2 separate regions of the Homo sapiens genome follow, and region 2 is linked to region 1. The links come from fine-mapping of genetic effects on gene expression. A gene starts in region 1. The other region holds a variant in brackets. All regions are shown on one strand. Distances are between the middles of the regions.

Region 1 (8,156 bases):
CAAGGCTGTAGTGAGCTGTGATAGTGCCCTGTACTCCAGCATGAGCAAGAGTGAGATCCTGTCTCAGTTAAAAAAGGAAGAAATATAGTGTGGGCTACTTATATATGATTTTAAATATTTTAGTAGTTTCATTTAAAAAAGTTGAAAGGAACTGGTGAAATTAATTTTAACAGTATGTTTTACTTAAGCTAATACATCCAGGATACCATTTTAACATGAAAGCAGTATAAAATTATTAGATATTTTACACCTTTTTATACTCTTTAAAGTCTGGTGTATATTTTACACTTAAGGAACAACTCATTCAGATTAACCACATATCAGTAGTCCCTATGTCTAGTGTCTGCTGTATTGGAATTGGATGATATAATTTTAGATCAAAGAGAAAGGGGAATGAACATATTTCCCTATATCTAGATTTTCTCCGAAGCTGTTTTACACATAGTGTTTAAATTAACCTTCCTAAAACATTTATTAACGTCTCAAAAGAGCTGAAGAGGCTACCTACTGTATGTTAAGGCAAATTCATTCATTCAGCTGGTTACCCAACAAGCATTTACTAAAAGCCATACCCTATTCTAAGAGTTAAAGACATCAATAAGCAAAAGATCAAGTCCCTTTCCTCATATAGCGACATTAGCAAATAATTTCATTATAATTTGGTAAATGAGTGTAAGTTAAGATAGTATCAGCATTCAGAAGATATGGGGGATAAAGGGCAAGTGGGAAGTGTGGTACTTTACTTATTGGAAGTTGAGGAGTACCACCATAGATCAGAGTTTTTGGTTGCAAGCAACAGAAATTAATTTTGGCTAATACAAGCAGGAAAGAAGTCTATTCAAGGGTATGAAAGAGCTCATTGGATTGCCAGATGACTCTCAAACGTGGCTTGGAAAATAGGTAGGAGCCATAGGACCTAGCCGGCAGTAAACAGAGACAGAGTCACACCATGGGTCTGGTTAGGATGCTGCACTTGTCACCATTGCCACGGAATTGAGTTGTGCCTGCTTCTGGGCTTGGGTCAAGTTTCCATTGTTCGCATGCCACTCTTGCATGTATTCAAGGCCCTTGTACCTTTTAGCATTCCCTCAATATTCTAGCAGCCGTTGACAAAGCCTGGATTAATTGCCAGGAGGGATGTAAAGATAATATTTTTTTTCTCGAAAAAGAAAGGAGTTTTGGGTGTTGAGTAGGCAAAAGACAATGAGCATGCATATTATAAAGGTTTTATGGCAAAATAATTTGTGTTCTTTATCTTTGCATTCAGTGATTGCCACTTGGCATAAATGCTTGTTGAGCCAAGCCTGAGATAATGATTGAGCTAAGACTTGAAGGTGAGCAGGAGCTCATGAAATAAAAATGTAGGGAAAATGTATCCCAAATATAGTATTTAATAATGTATTAATATATGAACAAGTGATCGAATAGGACAAAGTATATTAAAAAACACAGTCTTTCAAATAACTCAGTTCATCAGGAATATAGGATTCACAAGGGGAGAGAATGACACATGGGATTAGAGAGGTGGATCAGGGCCAGATTCACAAAGTGCCTGCATTTATACGACAATTTTTATTGAGCTGCTAACCTGTGCCAGGCACTATGCTCAATGCTGAGGGTATAGCATGCAACCCCTGCTCTCAGGAATCCTTTGTTCATTTCTCATACCTCATTTTATCCTGTGAGGAGACTTTGAGGAGCTGTAAGCAGAGCTGTAGCATAGCCATTTTCAGGTTTTAGGAAGATAACTCTACCATAATAGGCTGGATAGTAGGTTTGAGCAGGTGATACTGAAGGCAGGGAGACAGGTAGGAGACTTGCAACTGTCTGCGTGAGAGATCATGAGGGGCTGAGCCAAGGCATTGGCAGTGGGATTGGAGAGGGTAAGCTCCAGAGCTCAAACTCGTTCTGAAACTTAGAGCTCCTTTTCCAGGATGCTTGACACCCTCTTCAGATGAACAGAGTGTAACTCACTGTGGGCTAGACATACCATTCCTGCTCCCCCTTCCTGAGTGCCTGTGCCCCTCAGCTCTTTTGCTCAGACCCCTCCTTTCCGGCTTAGGGTACAGTTCAAGACCACCTATAGCTCAAGCTCTCAGAAGTCTCTTAACACTCTTACTTGCTGCTGTCCTACTTTTGGTGACTAACCACCAGAATAGGTTAGAGAGCAGAGGTTATTGTTTTAGGTTGCTGTGGTATCTCCCTGCAGTTGACAGCTGCTTGAGGGCAGAGATGCTGTTTTGTTCTCCCTTGACCCTCAGGCCCTAGAATGGGCAGAAACAGTACATGTTCCTGATGACTGTGCCCCCCAACTTTGTGAGACACACCGGAGGTACTGATGGCTGAAAAATTCCATCACCACGCTTCTGTCCAGCACTGTCTGAGGAAGGCTTATCTCCCTTAAGCACACTTCTTGAGTCACTCTCTGCTTTTAAACCTCCCACAGCTTCTCATTTCCCCTTGAACTCTCCTTAGCTTTTATGGTCAATCAATCCCTTCACTCCATATTCCCCCAGTAGATACCTCTGCTCTCATCAGACAGAGGCTTGTTCAGACAGAAACACACCTTGTTAAGGTCTGCTTCTGATTTTTACTGTCACTTGCGGTGATCCCCTGTCCAGAGGCTTCCCTCACTTGTCCCTCTGTTGGTCCAGAATCAAGGACATCCTTCACATCTCAGAAACCCACCCAGTCCCATATGGTTCCAACTCTCAGAGATCTCCCTACGGCTAAACTGTGGCAATTAGAGGACTGTCATAAGACAAAACTACTTCTATGACCCCCATCTTATCAGACAATTGCATTCTCCCTTCTACAAATTTTTGTATAATGCTGAGAAAGAAGTAGCTCTCTGAAATGGCAACTCCAAGACTTCAATGAAACTTTTAGCATCTGTTGGTCAATCCTCCTGCTGATACTGAGTCACCACTCATTTGTGGTGATTCTAAACCTCATTTTATGATTCACATTCTAAAAATGGGGTGAGGTTTTTACCAAGCAACTAATTCCAGTATGAACTTAACCTCACAATTATTGGGTTCTTCTGTGGGTTTCCAGCTGCTTAGCACAGCACTTTTCAAGGTCTGATTTCTTATGGCTTATTGGTGTGGCTCTTCCATGGCAAATACCTAAAATCCATTTTATGGATTTATGGTATGGAATATGATGGGGGGTTCCATGTGATCAATTTGTTCCACCAGTCTTCATTGGGACCACTCATTGTCTGTCACCAGCCCATGTCTGGTCTGGGACAAGTGAAGGAAGGATAGATAAAGTTTTGGGGCTCTTTTTTCGTTCATACGTTCTGAGGAATGGTCTTGGTACTTTGGCCAGAATGCACCTATATCTATAATGAAGAGGATTTAGAATCTGCCTTCTGGGCACTGTAGCTGAGCACATGACTCTACTTAGCATTTTGAACAATGACTGAAACCAGATTCTGCAAATGACAGAAATGCAGTGGTTTCATGAAATCTGCATTCCAGTCCCAAGACTTCTACGAACAAGTTACGCAACGTTGGGCGAGTCATTTAACAATAGCAGCAGTGCTGGCGATGGCTAACATTGGTTTGGAATGGAGCCTGGGGCACAGTAAGCCCTCTGTAAGGTCACCTGCTGTTTTCATTGTCATCGTTACAGAGGGTTTATTACATCCAGTCCTTAGTACTTGGCGTACATTATCTTGTTTAATCCTCGGAATTATGGAGTGAGTTTTATTATTCTTTCTGTACAAGGTTGAACTGAAGCTTAAAGAGGTTGAGTTATGAGTCCACGACTGTATAGGACTCCAAGACTGTATAGGACTCAAATCCGAACAACCTAACTCCTGGGCCTGTGATCACAATCTCTATTCGTGTGCCTGATTTCCTTGGGCCTCAGTTTTCTCATAACACCTGAAGTTGTTGATCTTTAAAACCTTTCAGTTTAAAATTTTTAAATATTTTCCTCTTACCTTCACCTTCGTCCCCTGTTCTCTTCCCTACCCCACTTATCCATGACTTTTGCTGGGTTCATCATTGCAGGATTGGCAGGATGTTTTCCCCATTGAGTGATGACACTGCATGTGTCAGCATAGGGACTTGTATTGTGGGTTTTTTTTTTTTTTTTTTTGACGGGTGCTGTGGGGCTGGTTTACATGCTGCTGTCGTTGAAAGAGGAGGAATCTGACTCTTCAATTTTACTGCCTTATCTTGGCCCGCAGCCATTACCACATTGAGTGACACACATTTGACAGGGCTTGAGAAAGTCGTCAAAGGCAGAAGCCAGTGGGAATCAGCTCTTTGTGCTTGTGGACCCTGCACTGCTCTCTGGTAAGATCTGGTTTGGGAGACCTGCTCTCTCCAGGCTGTTTGCCTATGTCTGGCCTTGTGGTTGGCAAGGATCCTAGGAGAGGGACTTGGAGAAGAGGCTTCTGGGCTTCCCATCCTTTATACAGCTTGGGGTGTGCTGGCAAACTTTCACATGGGGAGTTTCCCGGACATTTCATTACAGTTCCATTGTAATTGATATTTGTAAAGTACTTAAGTTGGGTGATAGTCTATATGTACTGTATTCTGTTGTACTTCTTTGCGGCTGTGACACCAGGGTTAGAGTGTTTTGGCTGCAGAAGACCTGGGCTCAAGGGTTGGATCTATCACTTAGTGTGGTGCTTCAAACACACCTGCTTGTTATGGCTTTTACTTGATTATTCTTTGGGTGAGATCTTATTATGAAGAAAAGTCAGCCACTGTGCTGAGATTTGTAAACTCTTCCACTTAGCCTGGAGGAAGCATTTTACCAAAAGGGCCTGGAAGCACTAAAAGTATTAGGTAAGTCACTTAATTTTTCTCAGCCCAAATTTCTTTATCCATAGAAGAATTAGAGTACTATGAGTCCTACTCATCAAAATGGCTACTGAATCAAGTGAAGTATGGTATGAAAATGTGTTTCTGAAAATTATAAATTCTATATAAACATTAGTTGTTTTTAGGAAGCATCATATGCCAAAACTGTTTTAAACACCAAAAAAGCAAAAGCTGTTCATGTTTTTACCGATTTTCCCACCTAGAGATTATTTACTGCAGATGATAACCTGTAGTAAAATTTCCTAAACTTTTCATTGTGCAGCAATTGGAAGACTGTGAGTTAAGTTGTTCTAGAAACTATCTGAATATTGTGTATATTTAGTTAATAAGAACTGATATTGTTCAAGGTATATAGTAGCTCTTCTATGGAAGCACATTAATTTTAGATAAATTCAGATTTTATTAATTCATTATAAATCATTATTAGATCAAGAGCTAGGTTCAGGTTGTAAAAAGATATTAATACCATGAACAAAATTATGTCAATTAAGAATCTTTCTGTATTCCTAGAACATAATTGCAGTGTGAGCAAAGGCTAGACCATTGTAACTAATTTAAATAGGCCTAGATTGAAAATGTTACTCTAACTCACATTTTTCACTACCACAGATGTTCCCTATCCTCTTACTCCAAATGAACAAGATCACTTCATTTCTATTTTTCTTGATTGATAAACCATGCTTGGAGATACCATCTGGAGATTGTTGGGTTTCTGCCAGAGATTTAAATCAGGTTTATAAAGAGTTACCTGCCTAAGGCAAGAAACTGGACTAATTTAATAGAAAAGAACATGCTTTTATTTTGCCAGCTAGTAAGAGAAAGTGAAAGCATTTTGAAAAGTTTTAATATTTGTTTAGCAATGATAGTATTATAGATGACAATATTTCTAAAATACAATAATTAGGGAAATTAGAGAATCTAATTGCTGAAATTTGTGTAATTATTTGCAAGTGTGATATGAAGGCTTATCTAGAAACCTTGATGCTAAAGACAGACATTTCAGTATAAAAGGTGAGGGCATGACAGGAACAGAGTGAAGTAAGGCAAGTTGGAAACCACCCCAAGCCTTCTTGTGGGCAGCGCTAAAAGCCCTAGACCTATGTGGATTCAGTGTAATGTGATGGTTATCCTTTTTAATTTTTTGTTTGTTTGTTTGTTAAACAGATTTCTGCCTGGCAGATTAACCAACGGCAAGAGAGGCTGATCTGTCTACATTCTGAGTACTGCCCTTGGCAAGACACCTAGAACAGACCCTGGACCCAAGTCTACCGTACTACCATACCCCTACTCCAGCCCACCCCAGACAGTATTCTGGGGTTCACCTGAGGTCAGCAGTGTGAAGATGACCAGTGCCTTTTTAGCATGACGACTTTGGACCATGTGATTGCCACCCACCAGTCAGAATGGGTCTCCTTCAATGAAGAGCCACCCTTTCCTGCCCACTCGCAGGGTAAGGAGTGCCTTCGTTTCCTAAAGTGAAGAGATTGTCAAAGAACCATGTCTATTTGTTATGGCTTCTACTTGATTATTCTTTGGGTGGGATCTTAATATAGAAAAAAGGGTCAGTTTCTCACTTTCTTTCTTGAGATCTTAGAATCCTAAGTGGAAGAATTTACACACTGAAAAAGCATCTTGGGAACCTTAGGGCCCTAAAAAGAGGCTTGGAAACACCAAAGGTAGTGGCTCTTTTCTCCCAAGAAACAAAAACTTAATATTTACCAAATACTTTACTCTCAGCCTTTTTAAAATGTAGTTATTAAAAGTAGTTGTTAAAAGTGACAGGCTCTGGAGCCAGAGTGCTTGGGTTCAAATCCCTGTTGCACCAGGGATGAGTGATATGCTTTTGGGTAGATTATTTATTTAACCTCTCCATGCATAGCTTCATTATCTGTACAGTAGGGATAATCAGTACCTATCTCACAGGTTGCTGTGAGGCTTAAGTGAATTCATACATAAAAGTGCTTAGAGCAGTGCCTGGCACGTGGAAAGAGCTCAGTACGGTCATCCTTGATCATAAGGAGGATGACTATATTGACTTTGGAGAACTTGTGCTCAGGGATGAAGGTCAAGGTAGGATCCAGGAGATATTTGCAGAGACATGTGAGTTGGTTCTGTTCTACTACAGCTACCAGTGCCAACTGAAGTCATCCCACCGTCATTTATAACACCTAGAAAGTGTGAGTCGACAGGTATGCTCTCCAATATGGTGGCCATGTGGTTACTGAGCCCCTGAAATGTGACAAGTCTGAATTGGGATGTGCTGTAAGCATCAGATACCTATGCTAAATTTCAAAGACCTAGTTTAAAAAAATTAAATAGCTAATAATTTTATATTTCTTACATGTTGAAATTATAAATTTTCAGCATTGGGTTGAAATGTGTATTATTAAAATACTTTCTCCTGTTGTGTTTAATTTTTTTCATGTGGCTACTAGAAAATTTAAAATTACATATGTAGCTCACATTTTATTTCTGTTTGACGTGCTGTAGAGGCTTTGAATACTTGCAGATGGACCGGTTGGCTAGTGATGGGAGAAAAGATTTTATATTAATTATTTGATTAAAAACCTTTATACAGAAAAATTGACTTCTTTTGTTGTACAGCTGATGAATTTCAGCACATGTATACATTTGTGTATCTACCACCATAATCAGGATATAGTTTTTTTGTTGTTGTTGTTGTTTTGAGACGGAGTTTCGCTCTTGTTGCCCAGGCTGGAGTGCAGTGGTGCAGTCTCAGCTCACTGCAACCTCCGCCTCCTGGATTCAAGCGATTCTCCTGCCTCAGCTTCCCAAGTAGCTGGGATTACAGGCATGTGCCACCATGCCCGGCTAATTTTGTATTTTTAGTAGAGATGGGGTTTTGCCATGTTGGTCAGGCTGGTCTCGAACCGCTGACCTCAGGTGATCCACTCACCTCGGCCTCCCAAAGTGTTGGGATTATAGGCATGAGCCACTGCGCCCGGCCAGGTTTTTTAATTTCCAAAAAAAAAATTTTTGAAGGCTGTTTAATTTTCTGGGGCCAATCAAGTGATACAGTGCTGCAGAAATAACCTCTAGGTTACATTCAGCTGGTCATTAGTGCACATGGGTTTGCACCTGGTGTCCTGTGGCTGTGTATAGCTTAGACTGCAAAGAATTTGAAATTTGAATTTGAATGTCTTCAGACAGAAGTGCTCTTGTTCAGCCACAGTCCCCACCAGTCCCTTTTGCCTTTCACTTGTCTCACTTGACTCAGGTATATTTCCTACTTGACCTCTGTAAGCACTTTCCTTTGTGACCCCCAAGCACTGGAGTAGATGCTGGCATAAG
Region 2 (8,156 bases), 24 kb before region 1:
TGAAAACAGATTTTATTTGTTTGCCTTAGAAACGGAAAACATTTATCTTAAGTTTTTTTGGTTTTTGTTTCTGTTTTTTTTTGAGACAGAGTATCATTGTGTCACCCAGGCTGGAGTGCAGTGGCAGGATCTCAGTTCACTGCAGCCTCTGCCTCCTGGGTTCAAGCGATTCTCATGTCTCTCCTTCCCCAGTAGCTGGGACTACAGGTGTGTGCCACCATGCCTGGCTAATTTTTGTGTTTTCAGTAGAGACGGGGTTTCGCCATGTTGGCCTGGCTAGTCTCGAACTTCTGGCCTCAAGCAGCCCACCTGCCTCAGCCTCCCAAAGTTCTGGGATTACAGGCGTGAGCCACCATGCCTGGCCCATTTGTCTTAAGCTTTTAAAAGAGAATAATGATAATGCCATGGTTAAGTGGATAAGGCTGGGGTGATCCATATTTGGTAGACGTATCCAGTTATACGTTGTTTAAATGTCGTCTATTATGTGAACTCAGAGCTGTCAAAAATAATACTTTGTGTTTTTCCCCATCCTTGCCAAACATAAAATATTCATTTTTTTCTAAATCATTCCGTGTCCCTACATTTCCCTCTACTTCAGACTTTGAACAGTTGAAGGGTGGAAAACTTTTATCATTGCTGAAATTATCAAAAACACTATCAATAGCTATCATGCGTTGAGTTTTACGTCCACTGCTGAGTGGTTATACCATGTTATTTTACTTAATTTGCACCTCAACGCTGTAAGGTCAGGAGGAGTAGCATCTCATCTAAGGAGTAGCATTACATGAGGAGTAGCATTTCATGAGACAGAGGCTGGAGCTAAGTACTTTGTCAAAGGTTGTAATGGAGCTGGGCTTTAAACCTACCTCTCTTAATCGCTTAGATCTAGAAGCTATGCCCTGAGTCACTGTGGTATCTGGAAGCAAAAGGAAATGTGCTCTAAAGAGTTAACAGGGGCTATCTGTGCACTCTGGCCACACCCTGGGAGATGCCTGGTAGGAGGAAAACTGCTTTTGTTTTTGCACGGTCAGTTCACAGTATCAGCAGGGCAGTCAAAGCACACTTTTTTCTCTCTCTCTTTTTTTTTTTCCCATCTCATCCTTATTCTTTTTGTTATGATCTCTAAAAAGTTGGTGAGTTAGGGAGTGAGGATCTATTTGAGTAAATCCAGCATGTTTCTCAGTCACCACCCATCAACCTAATTGGCATAGGCGGGGCTGTGCTGTCTGCAACACAGCCAGCTCCTCCAGCTGTGCCATCCATCATACTCAGGCACCCTGGAGCGCACATGCTCTGCTTCCGGTTGATTTTAAGTTCCCGATTCCTGAGCAGGCCTTGGGGAGGCAGTCCCAAGGAGTCAGAGTTGTTTGCTGTCGCATATCAGACTCCGGTCTGGGTGACTTGGCTGGTCACAGCACAGTGCTCCTGGGCCCAGGGGCTGTGATCTCCTGTCATTTGGTTGCCATTTTCCTGTGAAGAGGGTAGAGAATATGCACCCAGTCAGGTCAGGCACTTTGCAGAGGTGGGTCCTGGCTATAAGAAAGCCAGATAAGAGTGCAGGTTCATTTATGCATGTATGTTTCTACTCATAGGAAAACAACTCACGAGGCAAAAAAGTACATCTCGTGGATGGAGCAGGGCGAAGTGGTTACAAGTACAGACTCTGGAGCCAGACTGCCTGGGTTTGAATTGTGCGGTTTCAGGTAAGCTATTTAATCTCCCTGAGCCTCAGTTTCCTTATCTCTGTAAAGGGAACCTACTTCATAGGGTTATGAGGATTATATGATAATTTAATTAAATGAACAGTAAAGCACTTTGACATCAATGTCTGAGAGATGAGAAGTGTTACGTAAGTGTTTATCAAATAGCACATAAAAATAAAGCGGTAGGTGAACATCATGATTTGTAGGTTACACAGTGCTGTGTTAGACGAAGCTTACGTGACTACCTCAGTTAAGGTACTCACGGTGAGTTATGCTCAAACGAAATCTTATAAAATGTCCTAGGGAAACTAGCCATTTTAAAGAATCATGTGAGAAATATGTATGTAAACTGCCTTTTTGTAAAATGAACATGAGAGAAACTGTGTCAGAGGAAGCGAGAAGACAAGGTTGGATGACTCGATGTTTCGGGCGAGGGGGACTGGAGGGGTAGAGTGCCATCATCTTGGATGGGAAGGGTTCTTGCCGCAGTCATTTCAGGGAAGGGAGAGTCGCTGGTCAAATCTGGATGCGTTAAGTGTGAGAGTCTTGTTAGATGTTGAAGTGAAGATGCTCAGTGGGCACCAGGAGAAGTCAGGTGAGAAGTCAAGGCTGGAAGCATCTGTGTGGGGGGTCCCTAGCTTATAGATGGAATCTAAAGCTGTGAAGGAATGAAGGTATTTAACAGCTGGAGAAGGGGTCCTAGGGTTGAATCAGGGGACATGCCAGCTTCACTGGGAAATTCAAGCTGGCTCGAGGTTTCTAGTTTGTGCTTTTCTTCACTTTGCCAGTGTAAAATGAGGTATGGACCCATTGGCATTTTCTTTGGGTGGTTTTATCATTTGAGCTCTATAATCCCATGGTTAGGTGCCTGAGTTAAGACTAGGGTCGGATACCATTTGACCTCTTACTATCTTTGTGCCCTTGGGCAAGTTACTTAGTCTCTGAGACTCAGTTTCTTTGCCTGTGAGATGAGAACTGGTGGTTAAAAATGCCCATCTCATAGGTGTGAGGGCTCAGTAAGTGCGACATTCGTGCTGTGAAGCTGTTCACCACTTTATGTCTTGAAAGATTCTCACCGTTCATGTAAATTTGTTAAAAGTGAGGAGTGGTGACAGTCACATGTGTTTAAATCCCTTTGAATTTTCCCTAAGCTGAAATCCGAATTTTAATTCCACTTATATTGCTACTGTTTTTCTTCTTTAAAAAAAATAATAAAAGAGAGAGGTCAGGGAAATACTATAGTAACTATACACATATGCCAGAGACTTACGTTTTCTCTGTAATTGAAACATTACATCCAGCGATCAGATCTGGCCTCTATATGTGGTAATTGCTACAAGAATCGCAGATGCTCAAGCATTCAGAGATATGAAAACTGAAACACAGAACAAAAGAGATACCACTGGATGACAGTGTTTTAGTATTACGTATAATAACCTCATGTTTGCTCTTTGCCACCATGAGCCAGGTAAGAAGGTTCTCTCACTCTTCCCTAAGATACTAACCAATCTTCCCTACTTTTTTTTTTTTGATGGCAGAGTTCACTCTGTCGTCCAGGCTGGAGTACAGTGGCATGATCTTGGCTCACTGCAATCTCTGCCTCCTGAATTCAAGTGATTCTCCTGCCTAAGCCTCCCAAGTAGCTGGGATTACAGGTGTGAGCCACCGTGCCCAGCTAATTTTGTGTTGGTAGTGGAGATGGAGTTTCACTTTGTTGGCTAAGCTGGTCTCGAACTCCTGACCTCAAATGATCCTCCCTCCTCCTCAGCCTCTTAAAGTGGTGGGATTCCAGGCATGAGCCACCAAGCTCAGTCTTCTCTACTATTTTAAATCCAAGTTTTACACTTGGTTGGAAAATTCCTCTAATCCATTTTATTTCACTTAGCAAATAATAATATTCTGAATCTGTTTCTAAAAAACTCTCACTCTCAAAGCTAAATAAGAACCCAGAGATGTGGAGAATCACATTCTGAAGTCTTGTCACTCCATTCTCTAATTATTATGTCTGCTGTATTTGCATTTATGGTTTATATGCTTTGAATTTGTAGCTTTTCTGTTTTGCAAGAGTTACTGTCAGTGAGACATCTACCAAAAGAAATACTGCTATTAGTGGTGTCAGGACCAAATGTATGTAACAGTGTGGTGTGTTTCTAAATCCCTACTGTGGTTTTTGAGAAACTGTCTCTAAATGGGAGAGGGTGATGTGAAGACTGAAAGAAAAAATCTTTAGAAACAACAAAGCAGAAACATTAATAGGAAAGAGCTTCCAGTGATTAAATTTTTCTTTTGGTCTTTCAGATTGAGAAAGTAAGGAGAATAGGCATACATGGTGGGAAATTTCTATCAACTTGGAAAAAACAATAGAATACATAATTCTTAGCCACTGAGATGAGAGCCCAGGAAGTCACAAGGTCAAAGGATCCTGTCCCATTGTCTGTGGTGACAGCCTGTCCTCCCACTATAAGGAATGCCTTACCCTTAAACAATGGAAGTGTCCCTGAGAAGTTGAAGAAATGCATGCTGATGGAATTTTAAAAATCATATCATTGTAGAAGTACTCCAGTGATTATACTTTTCTGTATTTTCCATTTTTTTTTTTTTTAGTGAGAGTGTATTCTGTTTATAATAAAAACAGAAATCAGAAAAATATTTTTTTTTGATATGGTGTCTTGCTTTGTCATCCAGGCTGGAGTACAGTGGCGCGATCTTGGCTCACTGCAACCTCAGCTTCCCGTGTTCAAGCGATTCTCTTGCCTCAGCCTCCCAAGTAGCTGGGGTTTTAGGTGTGCGCCACCACTCCCAGCTAATTTTTATCTTTTTAGTAGAGATGGGGTTTCACCATGTTGGCCAGGCTGGTCTCAAACTCCTGACATCAAGTGATCTGCCTGCCTTGGCCTCCCAAAGTGCTGGGATTATAGGCATGAGCCACCGTGCCTGATTAGGAAAAATAAAAGAAGGAAATAAACTAGGAGTGTGGGGATGAGTGAGTTGTCACCATTGAAAGGTGCTCATTTGCTCACATTTTATACTGTGAGAATTCTTTTGTCCTGCAAGCTGTGGCATTTCATAACATACCTGCTCTCCACATTTAGAATTTACTTTAAACATAGGGGATGTCAGTAGTGCATTTCATGTATCAAAACCTCAGACTCCACTCTACCAAAGCAGCCAGGCCTCAGTCAACAGACATCGACTCTCGCACTGTGCCAAGCCCACCCAGTGTGTCCTGGTTCCTTGTGGCTGTCCCTGGCAGTTGGAGACACCCACATGCCCC[A/T]GCCTTCAGTCAGCAGACACAAACTTGGGATGCGTCGGTTTCTTGTTTGTGAGAGGCCTGGTTCACAAGGATAACATCATGATCAGCCAGGGGCCCCTGTGCAGCTGCCCCATGAGGCCACTGCAGCAGCCTGTGTTTTAGCCTTTGGCCAGGCTGTTTTGGTTTTATGCCCATGCGTCTGTTTTGTTGGGGGAAGAGGGAGGGGAAGGATTCTCAGAAAAGGGAAGGACGTATCCTCCGCTTTGCTGAAAACGGAAATAAGGAATTATCAGTTCAGGGTCAGTAGAAGCCACAGTGCCTGGCTTCCTTCTGCTGGGCTCCTCTGGAATAATTTTGTTTTGTTTTGAAAGGCCCGAAAGCAACTTGAGCCAGATAAGTTGTTCTAGGGTGACAGTTTTTAACAGGGAGTCCACAGATCCCTAGGACTTTGAGAAGTGTGTCTGTGAAGTGCCTTAAATTATAATTAATGTTGCATGTATGTGTATTTTTCCAGAGATGAGAGTCTCTGGCTTAAATTATAACTCAAAGAGATTCAGAGAGCTATAATTTTTTGTTTAAAGGCTAAGAACCAGTTTCAAGGAGAGGCCTTCAAGTCTGAGTTGTACATCTTGGTCTTGGCCCTAACTTGAGAACTCTTCCTGGTTGGTGACTTGTGTACGTAGTGATAACATCAAGAAAAGTGTGCAGCGCACCTTAGGTATACCTATAGAAGGTCATGTTGCAGGAAGATGAAGATAGTTTCACTTTTTCAAGTGCTGGAAAGCTGGAAATCTAGAAATCTTTTTTTTTTTTTGAGACAGAGTCTTGCCCTGTCTCCCAGGCTGGAGTGCGGTGGTGCCATCTTGGCTCACTGCAACCTCCGCCTCCAGGGTTCAAGCGATTTTCCTACCTCAGCCTCTTGAGTAGCTGGGATTACAGGTGCATACCTCCACACCCAGCTAATTTTTTTTGTATCTTTAGTAGAGACGGGGTTTCACCATGTTGGCCAGGCTAGTCTTGAACTCCTGACCTCGTGATCTGCCCGCCTCAGCCTCCCAAAGTGCTGCGATTACAGGCGTGAGCCACCGTGCCTGGCCTGGAAGTCTAGAAATACTAGGTGGACCCACAGAAACCCGTGCACTTACTGAAGCCCATGCTGCAGAAAGATGGTTTCACTTCTTCAAATGCTGGAAAACTGGGCATCCAGAAATCTGTGACCTCTGTCCTAATGCCTCCTATTCTCTCCTTTCTCAAGCACACTCAGAGCTCCCTTAATATTCTGTATTATCATAGTATTGACTAGTTGGAATGAACACAAATATCTCTTTTACCTGGTGTCTCAGTGTGTTTGTGTTGCTGTTAAGGAACACCCAAGACTGGGTAATTTATAAAGAAAAGAGGTTTATTTGGCTCATAGTTCTGCGGGTTGTACAAGAAGCATGGCGCCAACATCTGCTTCTGGTGAGGGCTTCAGGTTGGTTCCACTCAGGATGGAAGGTAAAGGGGACCCAGGTGTGCAGAGATCACATAGCAAGACAGCAGAAACAAGAGAAAAAGGAGGAGGTGCCAGGCTCTTTTCAACTTCAGTTCTCGCAGGAACTGAGTGAGAACTCACTCACTCCTGTGAGAATGGTACCAAGCCATTCATAGGGATCTGGCCTCACCATCCAAACACCTCTTACTGAGCCCCACCACCAACACTGGGGATCAAACTACAACAGGAGACTTGGCAGGGCCAAACAAAGCATGTCCAAATCATAGCACCTGATCTTCTGCTGAGTTCTAAGATAATCCAGGCCCTCATGATGGTGACAAGATAACACATTTATGAGGAACTTCTTCCAAGTGGCTGTTTATCCTGTGCTAAACACAAATGACCTTCCCCAGGGTTCCAGCCTTGGTTCTTGTTTTTCCTCTTATTATTCTGAGTTACCCAGTCCAAATCCCCAGCTTCCAGTGGCCTCTCAGTCTGTGTTTTTAGCACTCATCTCTCTTCTTCTGAGCTCTAAATCTGCCTATTTAACAGGTCCTAAAGACAACATCTCAATGTGGTTGTCCCACGGGCCCATCAAATCACTGGGCCTAATGCTAAGCTCATCACCTCCCTTTTATGTCCCAACCATTCTTCCTCTTGAAGTCCTTATCTTGGCAAATGGTACAAAAATTGATCCAGTTTTCCAAAGGTTTTTTTCATCCACCTACTGCATCTTTACTTCCACAATCTCAATGAGTCCAAAAAAGATTCTATCCCCATATCTTGATAACATTACATCCTAAATGGCTGTAAAAACACCTTTCCTCTCTATCCCCCATCTTGCGATGCCTAATCACTCTAATTACTAGCTGGTCTTTTCACTCTCTGGTTGATCTCTCTCATTGCTTCCAGAATAACCTTTTTCTAAAAAACAAATTGGGTCATGTTATTTCCCTGCTTAAATTGTTTAATCGATCTCCATTGCCTTTATGACAAAACCCAGCCTTCTTGGCATGGCCTACTGGGCCCTGTCTGACCTGACTCCTAGCTCTCCAGCCTCCTGTCTTACTTTTCTCCTTCTGGCTCATTGCTTCGTCAAAGTAAATCACCTATAGTTCAGAAAACATATCTTTTTATTCATCTTCTGGACTCAGTAGGGGCATAATACATTTTTAATGCAGCTGTTTTGAGTGGAGGCCTTGAAAAAACTATTGCTCTTCACATTCCAAGTCGGGTAACAAAAAGACATCCTCATACCGTCTCAGTGCTTCATCCCATCCCTGCCCCCTGACCTATTTCTAACATTAATGCTGAATCTCAGGCCATCCTTGAACATGAACCTCATTTCTGAGCCTCTCGTCCTCCCTTCACATCATGCCTTATTCATGTCCAGATCCCACCCTGTCTGTGACACACACTGCAGGGGTTGGGGTCAGTGATGGGTGATGTTCAGGTGTGAGGTTAGGGAGGGGCAGGTTTGGGGGTGGACGTAGGAATCAGGGAGGTTGCATACACCCTTTGATAGCAAACAACAGTTTTGCATGTTAACGTGAGTGGTTAAGCATGGCTGAGTGCAATGGTACCCTCTTATTGACCATTTTGTATTGTCATGCTTTGTTCTTATAGATACCATCCTGCCAGCTTGGAATGTCCATTTTCTCCACCAGTGACCCCTGCCTCACAGAACTAATTTCTATTCATCTTTCAACCACTTGTTACCTTCCCT

Evidence for each region. PIP is the estimated chance that this variant, and not a neighbour inherited with it, causes the effect.
Region 2: its variant is the best candidate, but not a certain one, in a credible set for the expression of STON2 in blood mononuclear cells (TOPMed, PIP 0.73).

Annotation. Positions count from the first base shown.
Region 1 is chr14:81,396,433-81,404,588 of GRCh38, reverse strand. It overlaps STON2 (stonin 2), which reads left to right and starts at 4,265. Exons shown (of 8, transcript NM_001394390.1): 1 at 4,265-4,310; 2 at 6,009-6,294. The coding sequence starts at 6,207.
Region 2 is chr14:81,420,649-81,428,804 of GRCh38, reverse strand. It overlaps a transcript of STON2 not described here. Among named protein-coding and RNA genes, the nearest start is that of STON2, 24 kb to the right of the region's middle. RefSeq lists an enhancer at 825-1,329. The variant A/T (reference allele first, on the strand shown) is at 4,978.